Homo sapiens: one gene and its partner. The protein of the gene in region 2 interacts with the protein of the main gene of each other region in a biochemical or structural test. Each region holds a gene or a part of one and is shown on either strand. Other genes may lie near its edges.

Evidence for each region. Proteins that work in one complex are often made in the same cells at the same time.
Region 1: the proteins of UBE2D1 (region 2) and TRIM31 form a complex in vitro, tested with the Homo sapiens proteins (4 studies listed by BioGRID).

What each region holds. Positions count from the first base shown.
Region 1 is NC_000006.12:30,110,291-30,114,507, reverse strand, and holds the start of TRIM31 (E3 ubiquitin-protein ligase TRIM31), read left to right. Parts: upstream 1-1,417; 5' UTR 1,418-1,444; intron 1,445-1,619; 5' UTR 1,620-1,702; coding exon 1,703-2,119; intron 2,120-2,668; exon of another isoform or gene 2,669-2,764; coding exon 2,765-2,860; intron 2,861-3,829; coding exon 3,830-4,060; intron 4,061-4,217.
Region 2 is NC_000010.11:58,338,006-58,341,505, forward strand, and holds part of UBE2D1 (ubiquitin-conjugating enzyme E2 D1), read left to right. Parts: intron 1-3,500.

The DNA.
Region 1 (4,217 bases), on a different chromosome or scaffold from region 2:
GATTCTGAAGAATACTGAGTTCCTTTTTTGAGAAAGGATAAAGATAATTTCTTACAGGTGAGACTTAAATGAGGTAATATAAGCAAAATAAATCTATAAATCAGAGTCATAATGTCAAATGCCTTCAAGGGCCAAGGAGACGTGAGGTAGCAGAGCGGTGGGGAACATAGCCACCCTCTCTAAAGGCATCTACATTATCATTATTTTCTAAATCATCATGCCAGTCAAACAAAACCTGTCAAAAGTTAAATTCTGCTTCTAGGGGCCAGCAGTTTAGGAGTGTAAGTAAAACAATTTACAGATGTTAGACTGTTTTAATTTAACCCTAAAACAAACAAAAAGAAAGGTCTGGAGGTATAACATTTCTGAAAGTCTTTGGTTTACAGCAGTTGCTATAAGGGGAGCCACATAATTTATAGTCCAAACTGGACATTTCTGAAAGTGAAAGGAGGTGCTATTAATAATTACACCAGGACAAAGTGAAACCCAGGATGGTTCCAGGCAAAGCAGAGTGTATGATCACTCTGGCTATTATTATAATAATCATCCACAAGCCCTGTTTGACCTAAGATTAAGATCAGACAAAAATTAATGGTGTACTTCTTGCTGGGGACAGACGGCTGATAATGGAGAGTGAGGAGGTGAGGGTGGAAGCTATACCAAGAGAAGGGGTAGGGAGGAAGCACCCTTTTCCTTAAGACAAGAGGCAAGGAGGGAAGGTTAGGACATGAATGTACAGAAGGGAATGTATGTAACACTGGTTGATATATTCCTAGTCATAACAAAAGCCATAGAAGGCAAGTCAGGGATCAGAGAAGCACCAAGAAGGAAGAAGAAGAACATATAGACAGAATTGGCAAAGCAAAGAATGGGCACGGAGACACCAGCATACTGGAGACATACAGAGAAAAAATCAACAGAGGACAGACTACTACAGGTGTTGTGGGGAGACAGAAGATCACCAGGGGCAAGAGCAAAGTGCAAAAACAAAGAACAACTCTTTAGAAAGGAAGTTCCTTGCCTATCCTACTGAGCTAGGGAGTGGTTGGTTGACCCTGTGACTGGAAATTCCCCAAGGTAGGTGATGATAACCTCCACATTTTCACAAAATTCTGTGAGGAGCCAAAGCACCTGAGGTAGAGAATTGCCCTTCCCCTACTTTCCAGATGCTCTACCAAGGCTTGAACTTTGCATACAAGATGCCCAAAGCATTGCAGTGAACTGGCTGTGACCTTTCAGTAGGCATCACCACCCACCCCTCCACTCCCTACTCAGAGCTGATTGGGAAATCCCCCATAAGTGGTGTTTGGTGCCCCGGTCATTCTGATCTTAGTCAACCACCATACAAACATACCTTTAGTCCAAAGTTCAGGACAACTTATTTCACTTTATAAGCAGCCTATTACACATTCAAAGTATCCATTTGTTCTCAAGAGGTAGCAAGGTAGGACTGCCCATCTGTTTTCCTCTCTTTATAATATTTTCTAGATCCTAAATTTTACGCTTTTCTATCATTTCTTTATTTTTTTCTCCCTCTTCTTTTCCTCTCTCTCTGCTCTTCTAACTAATTGGCAGAATCTCTGACCTCCACTTTCTCTGACTCCCTTCTCCCTTCCTAGAAACAGTATCCACAGTGGACTCCGGGGCTCCTACAGACTTGGCACAGCTTCCTACAGTCTTGAAACAGCCCTGTTGTTCTGTCATGGCCAGTGGGCAGTTTGTGAACAAACTGCAAGAGGAAGTGATCTGCCCCATCTGCCTGGACATTCTGCAGAAACCTGTCACCATCGACTGTGGGCACAATTTCTGCCTCAAATGCATCACTCAGATTGGGGAAACATCATGTGGATTTTTCAAATGTCCCCTCTGCAAAACTTCCGTAAGGAAGAACGCAATCAGGTTCAACTCGCTGTTGCGGAATCTGGTGGAGAAAATCCAAGCTCTACAAGCCTCTGAGGTGCAGTCCAAAAGGAAAGAGGCTACATGCCCGAGGCACCAGGAGATGTTCCACTATTTCTGCGAGGATGATGGGAAGTTCCTCTGTTTTGTGTGTCGTGAATCCAAGGACCACAAATCCCATAATGTCAGCTTGATCGAAGAAGCTGCCCAGAATTATCAGGTAGGCATTTGAGGTTTCTTCCCTGTTCCCCCATCAGCCCAGGAGTTCAGTGAGGCCCTGGAAACTGCTACCTTCCCACTGAGGGTTTGCACCCCATTGCCCCCACCCCTTGGGCTTGAGTGGGCAGCTCGCAGTCAGGCACAGTGGGTTCAAAGAGCTGAGTCTGGGGAACTGCTGACTCTCTAAATCAAGGTGCAATGGAGAATGGAAAGGATGTGAAAATTTGACTCAGAAGGTTTGGGCTCAAGCCCAGTCTTGTGAGTTTACTGTACAACCTGCAAGGAATCACTTTACCTCTCTGAGCCTCAGGTACCTCACCTTTCAAATGGCAAAAACAAAACAACTCTCTTAAAGTTGTTGGTAGGACAGATGAAGGGAAGTTTGTAGTTCTTTGATAATTCCAAAGCACCATCCATAGTCCTAGTTAGTCATAAATAACTATGTTCTGGTCATTTAGGTCACTTAGGCTCCAGATTTCTCCCTTCTCAGCAACCCCTTTCCCCGCCAGCTTGAGAAAGGCGAGTCCTTAATAATTACACAAGGACTCACCTGGAGAGTGTCACCAGCTCTCCTAAGAGACCAGGAGGATTTTATGAGGCCAGAAATCTCCAGGCACAGCCTGTCCAAACGGCCCTCTTTCCGCAGGGGCAGATTCAAGAGCAGATCCAAGTCTTGCAGCAAAAGGAGAAGGAGACAGTACAAGTGAAGGCACAAGGTGTACACAGGGTCGATGTCTTCACGGTAAGAAAAACTCCATCCCACGATCTCTGGAAGCAGAAACATCTCTGCCAAAGCTCCTGGAATCCCCTATTACACTGACCCCTCAGAAAAAGATCCAGTGAGCCATGTCCTCTCCTCGGCGCCTCAGCACCTGACCGGCCAGGCGGCATCACCTCCCGCGTCGGCCTCGCTATTACAGCGGGCTGACTGCTCAGTCTCCACCGGCAGACAAGGTGGGGCACGGAAAACCCGCGCTGGTCTTAGAATCGCAAGTACAGGTTTTTAAGGCCGAGCTGCGCCCTCAACGGATTCCCCAATTAGAAAATGAAGACATTGGCCGGGCGCGGTGGCTCACGCCAGTAATCACAGCACTCTGGGAGGCTGAGGATCGCTTGAGCCCAGGAGTTTGAGACCAGCCTGGGCAACATAGCGAGACTCTCCTCTTAATTAAAAAAAAAAAGAAAGAAAACTAGCCGGGCGTGGTAGCACACGCCTGTAGTCCCAGCTACTAGAGAGGCTGGGAGGTGAAAGTATTGTTTGAGCCTGGGAGGATGAGGCTGCAGTGAGCCGTGATCGTGCACTGCACTCCAGCCTGAGTGACAGAGTGAGAGACTGTCTCAAAAAAAAAAAAAAAAAAAGACAGAAGGAAAATGAAGACATTGTGACCCCACTTACCTATTTTCCTGTGTGCGTGAAAGGAATAAAATCTATATGAAAGATTATAAACTGAAAAGCCTTCTGGAATTGTATTAGACAGTTCCTTGAAGGCAAGTGGTAAACCATAAATTAATAATTTCGCTTAAAGCTGAGCACGTAGTAGGTGCTTTTAGAAGTTTGTTCTCCTCTCCTTTCCTTTCTTCCAGGTCTGCCCTGGCACATTGCTCTGGTTGGGAATTCCACACAAACTTAATAAAATTAATGGCTGAATAAAGTGGGCTAGAAGGACCTTCGAGGCCATCCTCTCACCCTCTGCCTGTCCCTGTTTCTTAGGACCAGGTAGAACATGAGAAGCAAAGGATCCTCACAGAATTTGAACTCCTGCATCAAGTCCTAGAGGAGGAGAAGAATTTCCTGCTATCACGGATTTACTGGCTGGGTCATGAGGGAACGGAAGCGGGGAAACACTATGTTGCCTCCACTGAGCCACAGTTGAACGATCTCAAGAAGCTCGTTGATTCCCTGAAGACCAAGCAGAACATGCCACCCAGGCAGCTGCTGGAGGTGAGTCCCTTGGGGGCAGAATTGCAGAGAGGTAGCAGCCCATCCCTAGTCTCAGGTCAGAGCATGGACCACTGGCAGAATACCTGAGATTGCCCCAACCATCCTACCTCTAGCCCAGTGCTGTCCAATAGCAATATGTGAGCCGCATGTATTAGAA
Region 2 (3,500 bases):
CCCGCTGATTTTTTGTATTTTAGTAGAGATGGGGTTTCACCGTGTTGCCTAGGCTGGTCTCGAACTCCTGAGCTCAGGCAATCCACCTACCTCGGCCTCCCAAGGTGCTAGGATTATAGGTGTGAGCCACCACACCCGGCCAATAATCTCTTAATTGGCTTGGCTATTTGAGAGTGTTAAAAAGTTCATGATTTCACATTTCTTCACTATGAAAAAGAATAAAGATGATTGGATTAAAATTATATGTAAAGACAGAGCATGGAGATATCAATGCTTAAAATATATTTTTATAGTAGAATAAACTAACTATACTAGAATATACTAAATGATTTAATGCTCTGATTTAGTGTGCCAGTTTTGCATTCCAGCTCATAAATTTACACACCCATGCCCTATTTTTAAATAACAGTGAAAGATGTTATCGCAGTCACCTAAATCATTAAAAGAAAAAAAGTTTGAACAAAGTCTAAGGAAAGATACCTAAAACATGTCTGAAAAGAGGAGGACAGTTTTTCACCTAGGTATCTATTTTCTAGAAGTAATTTCTAAGTTGTTTCTTCTATCAATACTATTTTCATTACTTGAAACACTTTTTTTGGGGAGGATTATTTTTTAAATTACAGGTGTTAATATCCCAATACCAAATGTTTTGAAAACTAAAGGGCAAAAAAAAGGAAATCCTAAAACAGTCATTGTCATCATCATAGATTTTATTTGATAAAGAATTTGAGGTAATGAACATCATACTAGCATTATGTGATGTGATGTGATGTGATGTGATAAGTTTATTTACATTTTTGTCTTTTGAAAAGTGAGGCAATAGAGTTCCGTTTTACAAACATAGCAACTCAGAGAACTATTCCTTAGTGTGTAATTCTGGCCCCCAAATGGAACATTAGTTGTTTTTGTTTTTTAATAATCAATGTAATCTGAAACATATATAGAGAGACATAGATTAAAATCAAATTTGATAAATGTTTGAGCTGCTGAATTTTTTTGATTTGTAGAATTTTATGTTAAACTGTTTATGTCAGTCTAGAAAACTTTAGGATACTTAACCCAGCCCTCTATGGACGGAGCATCAAATGGAAGAAGGAGGTCTGAGTTTTTTTTGTTTTTAGACAGGGTCTCACTTTGTCACCCAGGCTGGAATGCGGTGGCACAATCTCGGTTTTCTGTGACCTCTGCCTCTGAGGCTCAAGTGACCCTCCCACCTCAGCCTCCTGAGTAGCTGGGACTACAGGCCTGCATCACCACACCTGGCTAATTTTTGTATTTTCAGTAGAGATGGGTTTTCACCATGTTGGCCAGGCTAGTCTCGAACTCCTGACCTCAGGTGATCCACCCGCCTCAGCCTCCCAAAGTGCTGGGATTACAGGCGTGAACCACCTCACGCAGCCAAAGGTCTGGTTTTTATTCCTGGCTGTGTGGCTTACTAGCTTCGTACAATGAGGCTAGTACATATTTTCCATACATTTCCATACAATGGATATGTATGGATATCCATACATATGAGGCTGCTGATCTCAAAAACCAGGGTGTTTGTAATCGTTACTCTGCCTTCTAAGTACTTGACATATATTAATTGACTTAATTCTTAGTATACCCAAGAGGTAGAAACAGTGTTATTTCCATTTTACAGATGATGATACTAAGGCAGGGAAATATTGAGTAGTTTACTCATGATCACATTATCTAGTAAGTGACAATGCTACGATTCCAAAACAAACAGTTGGCTTCAATTCCACATTCCTTTTTTTTTTTTTCAGTCTTAGAATCTTTTATTTAATACCTTCTCATGCCCAGTTAACACAAAAATAGTTGCAGTTACATATCGCTACTGAAAGCTACCAAACTGCCTATCTGAAGAGAGAGTCAAGGATCCTTCTCTTCCACTTCTTAGGAGAGAATGATAGTTTTTGGATGTTGAAGAGAGCATTCACTGAGATTACTGAACTCACCAGATATACTATAAAGCTTTCTGTCTAATGTAGCCAGTAGCCACATGGAAACAAATTGGGTATGAAAATTTAGTTTTCAACCTTGAGCTTTATGAAATCTAAATATAGATCAAATATTGCTGACGAAAATTTAGTATCCAAATTGAGATGTGCTGAAGTGTAAAATATGTACTGGAATTTGAAGACCTAGTATACAAATCTAAATAATTGTTACTAATGAGATATTTATAAACATTTTTATATTGATTAAATTTTGAAATGATGACATTTTGGATAAGCCACCTAGTCAGGCTAAGACTCATTTTCTTTCTCTGTAAAATGAAGGAGTAAACGATATCAGAGTACTACTTGCCTTATTCTGTCTTTACATTCAGGTTCTAGAAACCAGACCATGGGCAGAGCATTTTCCTCCTTGTTCAGCAGAGCAAATTTGTGGGCTTTTAAAGATGGTAACATTGTTTCTTAAATCACTTTCCATAATTTAATATCAGTAATCTGTTTATAGAAGAGAACAGCCACATTCCCTGACAAAGTTTTGTATGACTTTACTTTTTATTTTGCTTTTAAGCTTGGCTGTAATATTATTACTGAACCTGTGACACTTCACTTAAAATGTCAAATCCTTTAGTGGAGAGAGTGTTATTTCCTTGTCTTAATCTTTTTATATGCCAATGATTGTGCCCCCTAGGATAGCAAATAAAATCTGTCAATAAACTGACTGAACAATGCTATCCAATAGAAATACAATGTGAGCTACATTTTAATTTTAAATTTCCTAGTAGCCACGTTTTTAAAACGGGAAGTAGAAGCAAGCAAAATTAAATTTAATGTGTCTTATGTAATTCCATATTCTTAACCACTTCAGTACATAGCTTCTCTTATCCACATGAACTCGTATCTATTGTACTTAAACTGGAAGACATAGAGTCAAATGGGTTTATGGGATATAAGTGCTTTGCAAACTGGAATGTTCTATACAAATGTAAAGTGGTGTTATAATTAAGACCTTGGCATATTTGATCATTTTCACTGACACATTGCTCAAATGTGTTGATTGTGCTTCGCAAATCTCTGCTCCAAAGTAACACATGCTGAGATCGTTTAACATTGTAAATCAGTAATATAACTTTGATCATCTTTGTTTCATCACTTTGAATTTCTCTCCTCCAAAAGGATTTTGAAACATTGGTTGTAGTTCATAAATGCTCTGTCAAAAGTATCATTGCATTGTGAAGTTTTTATTTGAGATAACTTTTTGAATTGACAGAGTCATTTAGTTCCTGTAGTGGTTTTGAGTAGTAAACTGTTCATATTATGAGATTAAATCCAAGACTCCAGTTCTTTCTAGAAAGAATGATACAACTTAAAGAAGCACGGTATTTATGCATTTTGGGATAAATGGTTTTCCTTGAGATGAGAGCGAGATAGTGTTCTTTCTCTAATAAGCCACGATGTAAATTTTTTTTTAAATCTTTGTAATTAAGCTCAGTCTTTCTTTTGTCCTTGATACTGTATTTTTCTTTCTTCATCGCAATAGAG